Linked DNA regions of Homo sapiens. Each later gene encodes a partner of the first gene's protein in a complex. Each region holds a gene or a part of one and is shown on either strand. Other genes may lie near its edges. The genes, in order: THOC1 and SARNP.

Region 1 (7,288 bases):
TCTCTACCGAAGTTGGAGAGCCCTCAGTTATTTATGTAAGTTTACTGATGAGGAGGATGCCAGAGGAAAATGAGGGAATGGAATCCCAGCTCCTAAGCTAAATATTCTTGGACTAGACCTTTTGCGCCACTACAGGATGTATCACTGCTTATACAGGAAAGTGAGAGAGCCCACCTTCACCTCTAGTTCTTCCTAAGACCTCATGTCAACTTTTCTTATCTCACTTGGAGAGGGCTCTTGTCATTTATTAAACCAAACCCTTAAAATGTACCTGTGCTATCAAAATCCTTAGAGAAATCGTATAGTCATCAAGTCAACTTTTACAAAGCAGAAAGGTTACTCTAAAAAAAGATGTTTAAATATCCATTCTAAGAAAAAAAGCAATTTTTAAATAACATGGTTTATTAATTTGTCAGTAAAATTTTAACAATGGAAAAACATACTTACAATTTCTTCTTCTAGAATACCTCTGAAAGCTTGGTCAAGGGTACATTTTTTTTCATTTTCACTATTAAAAACAAAAGACATCCTCATTTTTCAAACAGCTCAGGGTATGTATAAAGATTGAGGCAAGTATTTTTCATAGATATCAATGCCTTACCTGCCAGGTACCTGGCTGAAGGTACTTAACAATGGCTTGATGTTTTTGTTGTTCAAGGCCTCTCTGGTAGACTTCTAAAAAAAAATTAAAATGGCAAATAATTGTAAAGATTTTGCTTATTATTTGCTGAAAAATATATCGTTCATTGATAGTGTATCTTACTAACTAAAAAATGCTTATACCTGGGAAAAATTACCTATCAGTCATTCTCTCAGTAATCCTTATTCCAATGCTACTTCATGATACGGATCCTCATCACTTTAAATCTGGCAAGAGCTTCCTTGCTGGACTTTTTCATTCTAGGTGATATTTCTGTCTCTTTAAATATCACATTCATGAGTATTGTGCTTACAAAAAAAAAAAATCTCCATATGGCTCCTTATTTGCCCGTTTTAGTTTTGAAGCTTCATAGATCCCTCAAGGTCCTTGATAATGTTATCCCAATTTACCCAAACTTAATTCCCAATACTCCCTAACACATACTTTGCACTAAAGTCTAGCCATTTTTCATCACTTTATATCAAACTCATTCTACTGTATTCACACATTCATGTTGCTCTTCCTACCTGCTCATCCAAATTCTATCCATTCTCCCACACCCATGTCAGGTCTCGCCTCCTGGAGGTATCTTGTTCAGTCCCTGACACGTAGCACTCAATAAAACCATGCTGACAATCTGTAGATTGTTTTAAAGTAATCATAACTTAAAGACAAAAATATTGCAAAAGGCATTCATTCTATGAACACTCACATACACTTAGAAAGTCATCTTATTACCTCACAGGAATTAGATCTATCCTAAATGTGTCCATTCCTTGCTCTGCCACTAACAGGCTGAGTAATTTGGGGCCTGTTCCTTTATCTCTTTGTGCTTCATTTTCGTCACCAGTTAAATAAGAGGGTTTTTGTAGATTTTTACTACCAGCAGCAGCTACAGTGGCATCACCTAGGAAGCTGGTAGAAATGCAAAATCTCAGGCTCCCTTCCACACTTACTGAACAAGAATCTGCATTTCACAAGAAGCTTGAGAAACACTGAACTAGATGATCTCCAATTTCATGGTCCTTTTCAGGGCTAGTATGATTTTTTTTTTTTTTTTTGAGATGGAGTCTCCCTCTGTTGCCCAGGTGTTGTGCACTGGCATGATCTTGGCTCACTGCAACCTCCGCTGTCCGGGTTCAAGCGATTCTCCTGCCTCAGCCTCCCAAGTAGATGGGATTACAGCGCCCACCACCACGCCTGGCTAATTTTCGTATTTTTAGTAGAGACGGGGCTTTGCCATGTTGGCCAGGCTGGCCTTGAACTCTTGACCTCAGGTGATCCGCCCGCCTCGGCCTCCCGAAGTACTGCATTTACAGGCGTGAGCCACTGCGCCCGGCCGCCAATATGATCTTGGATAGTCCTAACAGTTACTCTTAGCAGGCTTTCAAAGCACCAGAGATTGCAGCAAAACGCACACAAAGAAAATGATTATGATGACATACACAAAATATAATCCATTTAAAAAAAACCTCACACTGTGTGTGTGTGTATATATATATTATACGTATACGTATATATATGTATATATATATATATATAACCCTGCAAACAAGAAAACTACTTACTACAAAGGATGAATTTTTCTTTCACACAATTTTCATCCTGGCATCCCTATAACTACCAAAACACAGCCGAATATCTGAGAAATGTTGGTGCAAATGCTAGAGACGAATAGAGTCAGGCAACTTAAAAGTGTTCTTCATACTTACGTTGCTGTGACGAGCAACATAAAAAGAACAGAGTGTCTAAAGTCAGAAAAACCACTGAAGTCACAACTTTTTGGGGGGTGTCAGCTTCTACCTCATGTACCAGGAATAACCAACTTAGCCTACTTCACAGTGTTACTCTAATAGTTAAATGAGAAAGTGATCTGTCAAGTGTTTCCCAAATGCTCAAAACCACCCTTCCACATTGAGCAAGAATAAAATAGCATCTGGTTACCCTTCCCAAGGTGATCTATCTGCCTTTTCCCGCTTAGGATCTCATCGATCGCTTAGGAGTTAGACACGGTGGGTTAAGGGGTGGTGAAGAGACGGCGGGAACAAGCACTTGGTAGCTCAGAAGGCTAGGGCGGGAGCCAGGTCTTTGGACTGAAACCACTCCCACCCTCCCCCTTCAGCAGCTCCCCTTCCCCTTCTCGAGACACCTGCCCCACTAAACGAGCTGAGAGGATGGACCCAACCAGCAGTAGTCTGCAGGTGGGCACTCCAAGCGGGGAGCCGAGGCGCCCAGCACGCAGTCCGGGGACCCGCTGGAGGGTGGGCGGAGGCGGACGGCCCAGCCCACAAAGAAGAGGCGGGTAGTGCGTCTTTCCCTACCCCTCAACCTCCGACGGGGCCCGGAGCGGACGCTGAGGCGGACACACCTCTGTCTCACTTTACCCCAGGGCAAAATTCGAGTAATTTCAGGGAGAAGAGGACAAAGCATAGCGCCGGGTCAGGCCTGCACCCTCCCCTCTACAGCTCACCGTAAACCGCGTCCGCGCTTCGGGCAAACTGAAGAGCGGCGGCGTCGGAGACATCTTCTCGGCTGCGCGTGCCCGCCACTGCGCTGCGGCGCCTGCCGATGACGTCAAGCCAGGAGCAACGAGACTGCGGTCTCTCTGAGCCCGGCTAGAGTGGCCTGTGAACACCGGTCGGGCGAGCTGGCAGTTGGGAGTTTCCCTAGCGACTCAGTTCGGGTGGGCGTTGGGCGCCTGAGTCAGCCAAACAGCCTACTCGGGGTTCTTGGGTAGCCTTTGGGGTGAGGGGACTTGGGCGGCCTTGGTCTGTAAGCTCTGCGTTCCCGGGCGTGGAAGAGACTGGCCGCGCACATGCGTTTCTGTGGTTTTCCTGGTTTGGGGAAAGCGGGTAAATGGTGGCTGGTTGCGGCTAACTGGGCCGCGCTAAAAGGTAACCCAAGGCAGGTGGATTACCTGGGGAAACAGCTGGAGCAGTGGTCCTGGGCCGCCAGTCCGCGGTCATCCCGGGAGCTTAAGATGCGGAGTGGTGATAGGCTCCGGATGTATGAGCCCTGTGGCTCAAGGGCGCTGTTCTCTCTGCTCCGAAATAGAAATAATACCTGTCTCACAGAGCTGTTGAAAAGCTCCACTGAAATAATGACCGCAAGTGTGAACTGTAAAGCAATGTAAGTAGTATTTATTATTAAAAGGTCTCTACTGAAAGAAAGAGACCTAGGAGGAATGCAGTGCCCGGCGCTGATTGGAAAACGGGTGGCGCTGCGTCCTGGGCCGAGGCTTCCCTAGCGAAAACCTTGTCTCCCTCCATTTCGTCCCTTGCCTGCCTTCCCAGGAGAGACGTGGCCGATAGAAGCCGAGTGGCAGTAACTCTAAGTTGGAGTTACACGGTGGAGAAGGAAGCACTGACTCAGACTCGGGTAACTTCCTCTTATTCCCTCACACGTGTATCTTGTTCCCTTCTTCGAAGTCTGTAAATTTAAAATCCTAAGCCCCCCAACAACTGAACAGACCCCCGTGAGGCCAAGGGGACACCAGCAAAATCTTAACAACTGAGTTCCCAGTCATAACGGGATGGGAGGTCAGACGGACCTGGTTATACCCTCTCCCTTTTGTGATTTAGAGGAGATAGCTGACTGGCCATAAAGTTAAAATAGAGGCCAGGCGCGGTGGCTTACGCCTGTAATCCCAGCACTTTGGGACGCCGAAGCAGGTGGGTCACCTGAGGTCAGGAGTGGATCACCTGAGGTATGGCAAACATGGTGAAACGCTGTCTCTACTAAAAATACAAAAATTAGCCGGGCGTGGTGGCACGCACCTGTAATCCCAGCTACTCAGGAGGCCGAGGCAGGAGAATGGTTTGAACCCGGCAGGCGGAGGTTGCAGTGAGCGGAGATCGTGCCATTGCACTCCAGCCTGGGCGACAAGAGTGAAACTCTGTTTCAAAAAAAAAAACGGAGATGATAGGACTGACGGAATTGACTCCATGGCAATAAGATACCAAAGTATAAACAGGACCTAAGCCCATGCCAAGCAAGGGTTAAAAGTCATGCATCCCTACGCTTGAAAAATAAACTATGTTCTCACTATGCTTCAAGGTTTTTCTTTAGCAGCTAAACAAGCGCTGGCCTCACAGTATTAAAACAATTTGCAGTTCATCGACCACCAGACACTAACAACCCTCTCCCACCAGCCGTAACTACAGCTTTTATTGATTTCAGTTACTTTCTCCTGATAAGAAGGTCACTGACCATGGACTTGTTCTGGCCAATTTGTAGTGATTGCATGCTTACGTAACTTCCTGAAAAGATATTTTGATGTATAGGACCAAACTGTAAATACATTTAAATGTTAAGTCTCCACCCCAAAGTGAACATGGATTGTCTGTTAAACATGCATATTTGTTTAATATGCATGTGTCAAGACCACTTTCATGAATATTCATAGCCGCTCCTCTAACTTGTTGAATATGTATGTTTAGCCAACCAGTTAAGCATAAAGTTCCTACTCCAACTCCTCCTCTGAAGTGTCTGTATGTGGTCTTGGCTGGAGGCATGCTTCCCAGCCTGCAGAATGGCCACCTTGCAGGCTGTAACTCCTTATAAGAAACAAAGTCTCTCCTTTTCTAAATCTATAGATCTTATGATTTTTTAGTTAACATGCACAATAAGAATACAGGAAGCTAAGGAAAAGATAACTGCAGAATCTTACTCCTAAGTGGGAATTGTGAACAATAATGACTACCTGAAATGTTACAGGCTTTTTAAGAATCAGCAAGATCATTCAGGTTTGGTTGTATACATTAAATTTACAAATTGGCAAAATAAAAATGATTTAATTCAGAATTATACTTTGTTTATCTGATACTAATTGTTGTAATAGGATTATCATATTACAGATGACTATTAACCATCTGGAACACAACTAAGACCTCAGAGGCAAGTACATTTTTTTCTTTTCTTAAGAGACAGGGTCTCATTCTGTCATCCAGACTGGAGTGTAGTGGTTTGATCATAGCTGACTGTATCCTCAAACTCCTGGGCTCAAATGATCCTCCTGCCTCCATTTCCCAAGTAGCTGGGACTAGAGGCATGTGCCACCAAGCTCAGCTAATTTTTTTATTTTTGTAAGACAGGGTTTTGCTATGTTGCCTAGGCTGGTCTTGAATTCCTGGGCTCAAGTGGTCCTGCCTCGGCCTCCCAAAGTGCTGGGATTACAGGCATGAGCCACTGTGCCTGACCTGGCACTTTTCTTATATTGCTTCTAGTCCTTACAACAATTTTTTACTTAGTTATATATTAATGAGTATACAGCCTCATTGGCTGTAAGTCACATGGCTAGAGAAAGCTAAGTTTGGAATTTGAGCCTAGCTGTCATCCCAAAGCCTGTATTTTTCTTAAGTCTTAACTCTTGAATCTTTACCATGGGCCTATTCAATGTTTCAGAAATTATTTCCTTACAATTGGATAAGGGCGAGGACCATAGTGTCATTAATAACAAAACATAGGCCCGGTGCGGTGGCTCACGCCTGTAATCCCACTACTTTGGGAGGCCGAGCCAGCTGGATCACCTGAGGTCGGGAGTTTGAGACCAGCCTGGCCAATATGGTGAAACCCCATCTCTACTAAAAATACAAAAATCAGCCAGGCATGGTGGCAGGCACCTGTAATCCCAGCTACTCGGGAGGCTGAGTCAGGAGAATCGCTTGAACCCGGGAGGCGGAGGTTTCAGCGAGCCAAGATCCTGCCATTGCACTCCAGCCTGGGCAACAAGAGCAAAACTCCATCTCAAAAAAAAAAAAAAAAAAAAAGAGTTTTTTGTTTTTTGTTTTTTTGTTTGTTTGTTTGTTTGTTTTTAAGTGGGTAATAACATCCAGAGGGCAGACATCCAGGAACATGTAACCTTTTCACTTATATTTACTGAGCACCTGTTTTTCCTCATGCTAGCTGGTGAAGTAAGATGGACGAAGGACTGCCTCTCTGTTAGGAAATAACTTGCATGGGAGAATCTAGGATGGATGGTTTAGATCAGTTCTAGGCATTCACATCTTCATTCCTCTTTTTTTTCCTTAGTGTGGCCTTACTTGAGTTCAGTTTACCATTGGAATGGTAAGATCTGGGAGGAAAGGACTAAGGATGCAGTTTAATCTGCTTTTCTTCTAGTTCTTATCCTGACTATTGTCTAGGCAGAAGGAAGCTTTTTGCTCCATGCTTACTGGTCGGCCACATTAGGATGTTGGATTGCAGGTTTGCCTTTTTCAGCATTTGGGCCCCAGCCATCTCTCCCTTTCTCTCATTTGTAGTTTAAGTGGATTGAAATAATTATATTTATTTAAAGGGAACTGATGTTTGAGTGGCAAAGTTGAATAAAAAGAATGAGACTCCTGCATTGTGAGAGGAATGGAACTGAGAAGAATAAAAATGAAAAAAATGGCCGGGCACAGTGAGTCACACCTGTAATCCCAGCACTTTGGGAGGCCAAGGTGGGTGGATCACTTGAGGCCAGGAGTTTGAGACCAGCCTGACCAAGATGGTGTAACCCTATCTCTACTAAAAATACAAAAAATTAGCTGGGTGTGTTGGCCGCGCCTGTAATCCTAGCTACCCAGAAGGCTGAGGCAGGAGAAGCGCTGGAACGTGGGAGGTGGAGGTTTCAGTGAGCAGAGATCGTGCTACTGCACTCTAGCCTGG
Region 2 (7,277 bases), on another chromosome or scaffold:
TGTCTACTATGTATCCTTCCAAGCTTTTTTCCTATCTATACATGCACTCTTACATGACTAAAATGGGAACGTACTGTTAATATAATTTTGTAACTTTTTTCATTAATATCTCTGATAAATATCTTTCAATATTATTTCAGCACAGTAGTCTGCTATACCATGGCACACATTTAATAACTAATTCTCTGTTGTACAGTTGGTTGTTTCCAGTTATTGATCACTATAAATAATGCTGTGATAATCCCTGAGGCTAAGTCTTTATGCACATTCAAGACTATTTCCTTATACGTTCCTAGAAGTAAAACTGTTAAGGTAGAAGATATTCTTTTCCCTTTTATCACTTATAATAGCCAGTATAACACTAGATAGTATGCAATAATTTTATGCAGTTGAGACCCCAGAATAAGTAAGCAAAGTACTAGAGAAACTTCTTTGAAGATGTTCAAGAAAAGACAGACAAATGTTGGCACTTCCTATCCTCTCATAACATTCAGTATCTCTCTTAATTGCCCAGGAAGGCCTAAGTATAATTTTACCTAAAGCAGGAGATGAATGTTACAATCTCTTAAAGAGTTTCTACAGCTAGCAAATTTACCTTATTTTGGAGAAATAAAACCTGTTATACCAGAAAAGAAAGAATAAAAAGGTAACTTTCTCAGAAGTATCTCTGTACTCTTACCTTTTGTTGGAACTGAAGAAATCCCAAACCTGAAGAAGGAAAAACAAACTAAATTTTAGGAAGCTGTTCACACTCCTGGTTTGTCTGTCTCCGTGTCAAGTATACATATGACACTTCTTGCTTGTGATCTCAAGCCTTGCAATCATTAGCTAATTCTAACAACCCCATGAAAGAGGTTCAGAAATTAAGCTAAAAGGAAGCCTTATCAGAATTAGTAGTAGTCAGTTCCTGGCTTTAACTGTTACAAAAACCCTTCTCAATAAAGCTCAATTTATAGCTACTATAACCAAATCAGTAGACATGTTCTGAATAGGGTCAAAAAAGTGTTCATATCCTTCAGCAAGCCTCTATTCTACTTAAAATCAACAATTATACCTAAAAGCTAGGATCACACATCTTCATCTTTACAACACCCCTATCAGAGGCCCAAAAGGCTGGGGACACTCACCTAGCTGCCCGAGCAGCTTTCTTACTCTCCAAGCTCACAGGTACATTGAATCGTTCAGCCCTCTTCTGCATTCTCTAAGTAAAAATAGACAAAAGGGAGAAAAAAAAGTCAATTTATGGTTTAAGAAAGTCAGTCAGAGGTAGGTATCTTTAAAAAAAAAAAAAAAAAAAAAAAAAAGAGTCTCACTCTGTCCCCCAGCCTGGAGTGCAGTGGCATGATCTCGGCTCACTGCAACCTCAGCCTCCTGGGTTCGAGCGATTCTCGTGGCTCAGCCTCCTGAGTAGCTGGGATTACAGGACTGTGCCACTGTGCCCAGCTAATTTTTGTGCTTTTAGTAGAAATGAGATTTCACCATGATGGCCAGGCTGATATTGAACTCCTGGCCTCAAGTGAACTGCCCACCTCAGCCTCCTAAACTGCTGGGATTACAAGCGTGAGCCACCTGGCCCAGCCAAAGGTAGGTATCTTAAAAACATCAGAAGTAATTTCTTAGGGTCTAAACTGAAAATACTGACAATCCTAGAAGATATCAGGTTGTGTCCATGCTAGGACTTAACGGCCCTTCCCACAAAGCAAACAAAAAAAGACTATTACTAGATGCCCTCAAAAACAAAAGGGAGAAATAAAGTAAAACCTACATTATGCATGAAGCCAAGAAGTCAAAAGCTATGTTTGGCTGACCTTTGAAAAGTGATCAAAGGAATAGCTTGGTTCCAACACCAATGGTATTCTTTCAGTTAGAAATGAGGCAGCATTGTTTTATGCCATTCTAAAAGAGTTTAATAATTCTCTACTTTGCAAGTATGATACTGAACACAAGATCTCAAATGGAACCTGGTTTCACAGTCCTGCACCACAGAAACCAGAGAAATTTCAATCTCAGCTACTGGCCAGTAGCAACATAAGAGTCACATCTACCAATACATTTTCAAGGTACAATCCTCCTAAATCTAATCCTAGGTTTGAAAACATCTCAAAGAGAGTCACTGTTAAGACCATAATATTACATATAAAAAGACTACAACTTCAAGAATGACTACCCCTACGCCAGCCAAATATTTTCCAAAGAGTAGCTGGCAGTGAAACGTATCAACACCAAAATCTGCCAATACTGATTTTCTGCCTGTGAATAAATTTTAGAGGATGATGCAGATATAATAAAGGGTAAGAGGGAGAGAGAAATGTAGAGACTGTTCTACTAGGGAGCAGAATACCTACCTCAGTCTGTGGTATTTCAGATGTAATTTTCACCACTTTCTTCTCTGCTGCCCTAGAAAAGAAAGAGATTTTTTAAAATGAGAAAACTGATATTCTAAACCACAACCTCAGAAATGTGTAAGAATTCACCTGAGTCACCATTCTCTGCCCTATTATCTCTCTGCCACCCCCTAAGCCAAAGAAACATGAAGTCCACTAGAGCTTTGGTTCCTTTAACTGTCATCTATTGAGAGGAAAGAGTTCAAATAACAAACTAAGCTTCTTTAGCTAAAGTATAATAAAGAAATAAGGAAAGAAGTCTGGTTAAATATACTGGGCTGAAGGGAAACACTCAAAGGACACCAGAAACCATCTCATTTGCTTTTAGGAACTTTTCAATTTACTTTTATTTTTCTGAGACGGAGTTTTGCTCTTGTCGCCCAGGCTGGAGTGCAATGGCACGATCTCAGCTCACTGCAACCTCCACCTCCTGGGTTCAAGAGATTCTCCTGCCTCAACCTCCTGAGTAGCTGGAATTACAGGCACCTGCCACCACGCCGAGCTAATTTTTGTATTTTTAGTAGAGATAGGGTTTCACCATGTTGGCCAGGCTAGTCACGAACTCCTGGCCTCAAGTGATCCACCCACCTCGGCCTCCCAAAGTACTGGGATTACAGGCATCAGCCACCGAGCCCAGCCTTTAATTTACTTTTGAACTAATGAGTAACCCTCCAATCCTCCTTTAAGTACCACCTCCCAATGTTCATCACAACAATTAATAAGTACTCTACAAGGTCTGGTTTCCTTCTTTTAAAAATCCCTTATTTCTCCCATGGGGAATGTAGCTCTAGCTGGAACAGTCAAAGTGAAACAAATAAAAATGCCAAAGAAGGTAGGAAGAAAAAAGTCTAAGGGGAGTTTGAATTAGGAAAACATGGTAAGCTAGTGGTCAAAGGTTTAAGAGGAAACAAAAGAGGGGGGACCACAGGGGCGGGAGACAAAGTTCGGAAGTACCCACGATAAATGGAAGGGCATTAACCCTCCACCAAACAACTCCCATAAAACTGTGGGTCATAACCAGTCTCATTAAGGTCCCTCATTTAGAGACATGGGCAGCTTTTGTTCCAATATCCTGAACACTTTTCCCATTTGATGCCCTGAAAGGTAGTAATGGTTTAATGACATTTTCAGAGGAAGCAATTCTGGAATAAGAACTTACTCTCTTCCACCCTTTTATTGGAAATCCCTGGACTGAAGACAAGCAATGGGTGCCCCCTGCTGACTATAACGAAGTCCTACGATATGTAACCGCTTTAGCTGGTTGGGGGTTGGGAATCAAACTAGAAACAGGTATATTTTTGGAGAACTTCAGGCCAAACATGAAGAAGGGGATCTCCTTTTAAATAGTCAAGGAATCTAAACTAGCCCTGGCTATTCTGACGTTTAAAGAAATTTCTAAACGCTTCCCATTTCCTTGCCATCCTTCCCTAACCTTGTCTTATAATTTAGGCACAAAAGGCTAAAGTTTAATGTTTTACTTGAAATCCAATGCCATCAAGAAAGTAGTACTCTCCATCAACCCCAGTGTAATGACTTCCTCCCCATTACCATTCTGAAGCACAGTCAATGCAGTGCACATCATGGCAGAAAGGGAACCCCAGACGGGAAGTTTCCTTCCATTCTATTACAATTCCCTTAGGCAACTAAACTCAAGCGCAATAAATAAACATCGAATTCTGGGATGCATGGGAAATTTCCACTCTTCACTGAGAAATTTCTCTCCTACCCAATCACATAAACAACATTCCCTGAAATACAGAGACCCAGAATCTTTTTGTACATACTTCAGTCTAACCACAACTATCCTCTAAAAATCAAAAACGATCACCCCACCCACTTCAATTTCCTTGTTTCAAAATTCATTAATAGAATTAAAGCCCCCTGAACAGAATGCACATTTTAAATATTCTATGAATAATGAACTTCAAACTTTCGAACCTCTATTTTTTAACCCACAGAAGCCAATTATCATGGTATTCACTTGATCTTCTTTCTTGTTCCAGAAATCCCCATAACATTTCTATTTTAAAGCTATCTCACAAAGTCATTTTTTCAAGGCACTATATCTAATTATAAACATCTTATGATGGAAAGATAACTAAATGGCTTTAGAAAGTAGTATTTGATAGGCTGGAAAGTAGTATTTGATAGGCAGGTGATTACTGGCTCACACCTGTAATCCCAGCACTTTGGGAGGCCAAGGCAGGTGGATCGCTTTGAGCTCAAGAGTTTGAGACCAGCCTGGCAAACACGGCGAAACCCCATCTCTACAAAAAATACAAAAAAAGAGCTGGGTGTAGTGGCTCGTGCCTGTAGTTCCAGCTACTCAGGAGGCTGAAGCTGGAGGACTGCTTGAGCCGGGAAACGGAGGTTGCAGTGAGCCAAGATTGTGCCACTGCACTCCAGCCTGGACAACGGAGTGAGTCCCTGTCTCAAAAATAAATAAATAAAGGGATATTTGACAAAAATCTATCAAGATGTTAAATGTACATCCTCTGTGATGCAGCAAATCCACTGCTAGGAATTTACCCTGTGGGTATACTTGTGAGTATAAATAATTAGAAAAGGACATGCAGAACTACATTTTTTTTTAATGAATAATCTAAATGTCCATCAACAGAAGACTGGTGAAATAAATTACTGTTTATCCATAGAATGCAATACTATTAAATGCTAGAAAGAACAAGGTTCTAAGTTGATAACTAGTAAATCTGGGTGATAGGTAGATGAGAGTCTATTACACTAGTCGAACTTTTGTATATACTTGTAATTTCCCATAATAAGCTAAACAAAAAGAGACCACTTCCTAGGATAATTATCCTGACTTTACAGGGTCTACTGAGGATAAAATGACAGTACATGTAAAACATTCAGAACAATGCCTAGCATATAACTCTTAAGAACAATGCCTAGCATATAACTAACACTTACATAAGAAAATGATGATATAAAAAATTTCCAGATGTGAAAAAAAATCAAGTGTGCACAGTGTGTGTATACGTGTATCTATATATACACATACATACATATACACATGTACAGACCCCATATATAAAATCTTCCAAAAGTATGTACTGTTCTAAAAACCTCAGTAAAGTCAGATCTGAGAATGGATACAAAGAGTACTTAATTCTTAATTGATATACTCCACTATGTACTGACTTTTTACTTGTAAATACACTGCCTTTTATAATTAAATGCACTAACACAACTATGAGGAACAAAAATGTTCAAAGTTTAGGACTCAACGGCTCTTAATGTACTATAGTACAAAATGGCCAGACATTTGTGGAAAAAGCCCCAAATTAAAGATGTTTAGGATCACCCTTGTGGAACAGTTTAAACAAATCAAGATCTACTTTCCATTCTAGCACTTTGTCCTCCCATCCTCCACTGTAAATCAGAAAGCAAGAGAGAACAGAGTGCTACTTCAGAAACATAACCTCTACCCAACACCCTCCTCCCTTACAAAACTCCTTTATATAGAGTGTCACACTTTTTTTTTTTTTTTTCCCGAGACAGCTGTGGCTCCCAGGCTGGAGTGCAGTGCCACAGTCTCGGCTCACTGCAACCTCCACCTCCCAGGTTCAAGCAATTCTCCTGCCTCAGCCTCCCAAGTAGCTGGAATTACAGGTGCCCTCCACCACGCCCAACTAATTTTTGTATTTTTAGAAGAGACAGGGTTTCACCATCTTGGCCAGGCTGGTCTTGAACTCCTGACCTCGTAATCCACCCACCTCGGCCTCCCAAAGTGCTGGGATTACAAGTGTGTGCCACCGTGCCTGGCCTCAGTTTTACACTTTTCCAGAAAAGTGCAAAACTCTTATGAACAGTTAACAGAATGGGCCGGGCACGGTGGCTCACACCTGTAATCCCAGCACTTTGGGACGCCAAGGCAGACGGATCATTTGAGGTCAGGAGTTCAAAACCAGCCTGGCCAACATGGTAAAACCCTGTCTCTACTAAAAATACAAAAATCAGTCGGGCAGTAGTGGCACACACCTATAATCCCAGCTACTCGGGAGGCTGAGGCAGGAGAATTGCTTGAGCCTGGGAAGCAGAAGTTACGGTGAGCCAAGATCACGCCACTGCACTCCAGTCTGGGCAACAGAGTGAGATCCTGTCTCAAAAAAAAAAAAGTTAACAGAGTTTACACAGTTTTACACTGCATACAGAATTGTACAGATTCTCTATAGAGTAACAGAATAATCTATTATGGTGACCCTACAAAAGAACAACAAAGGCTAGGAGAATTAAACTATGTCTGGTCTTGAAGTCACCTGGTCCTCATTACCTATTACATAACTCAGAGACAATTTGCTTTACTTCACTGGGACCAAGTACTTTGAAGTAGTCCCTTCTAAAAAACAAAAAAATGACCTAATCAGAAAGGAAAAGGCCAATGGGAACATGTAAGAGGTAAACAAAGTTAAACATTAAATACATTAAGAAAAGAGCTGCCTGCTCTGTACTCAGATTATAAAAAAGGGATAATTACACATCAACAGTTTTTTCAGGGGGTTCTTCCTCTTTGACAGGGAGCTCAATGGGCTTTGTTTCTTCTTCCTAAAACCAAATGAAACAAGGTGGTTAACATAAATCTAAAGAATAAATATCTATCAAAAGAAGAACATCAGAACTCCAAAATAAACCAGTCTCTCAGAACCTTCATACCCATCTTATGCTCCCCTAATAAATTTACATCTAAGTCCTCCAATGACTGATGTTAAAGCAATGTGGCCAAAGCAGTGGCACATTACCAGAGACTAACCTTACTCTATCCAACTCACCTCTGTTTCATCTCCCAGTACATCTTCTTCATTTGCCTCCTCTTCAGCTAAAGAATATTAAAATATTCAGGTCAAGCCCTGCTACAAAACCATCTTGATCACT

What was found.
Region 2: THOC1 (region 1) and SARNP share a complex: the UniProt entries of both Homo sapiens proteins name them as parts of the transcription/export (TREX) complex.

Annotation. Positions count from the first base shown.
Region 1 is NC_000018.10:264,856-272,143, forward strand, and holds the start of THOC1 (THO complex subunit 1), read right to left. Parts: upstream 3,193-7,288; 5' UTR 3,165-3,192; coding exon 3,111-3,164; intron 676-3,110; coding exon 602-675; intron 509-601; coding exon 448-508; intron 1-447. UniProt on the Homo sapiens protein: Component of the THO subcomplex of the TREX complex which is thought to couple mRNA transcription, processing and nuclear export, and which specifically associates with spliced mRNA and not with unspliced pre-mRNA.
Region 2 is NC_000012.12:55,793,680-55,800,956, forward strand, and holds part of SARNP (SAP domain-containing ribonucleoprotein), read right to left. Parts: intron 7,222-7,277; coding exon 7,175-7,221; intron 6,951-7,174; coding exon 6,883-6,950; intron 2,398-6,882; coding exon 2,346-2,397; intron 1,202-2,345; coding exon 1,128-1,201; intron 709-1,127; coding exon 680-708; intron 1-679. UniProt on the Homo sapiens protein: Binds both single-stranded and double-stranded DNA with higher affinity for the single-stranded form. Specifically binds to scaffold/matrix attachment region DNA. Also binds single-stranded RNA. Enhances RNA unwinding activity of DDX39A.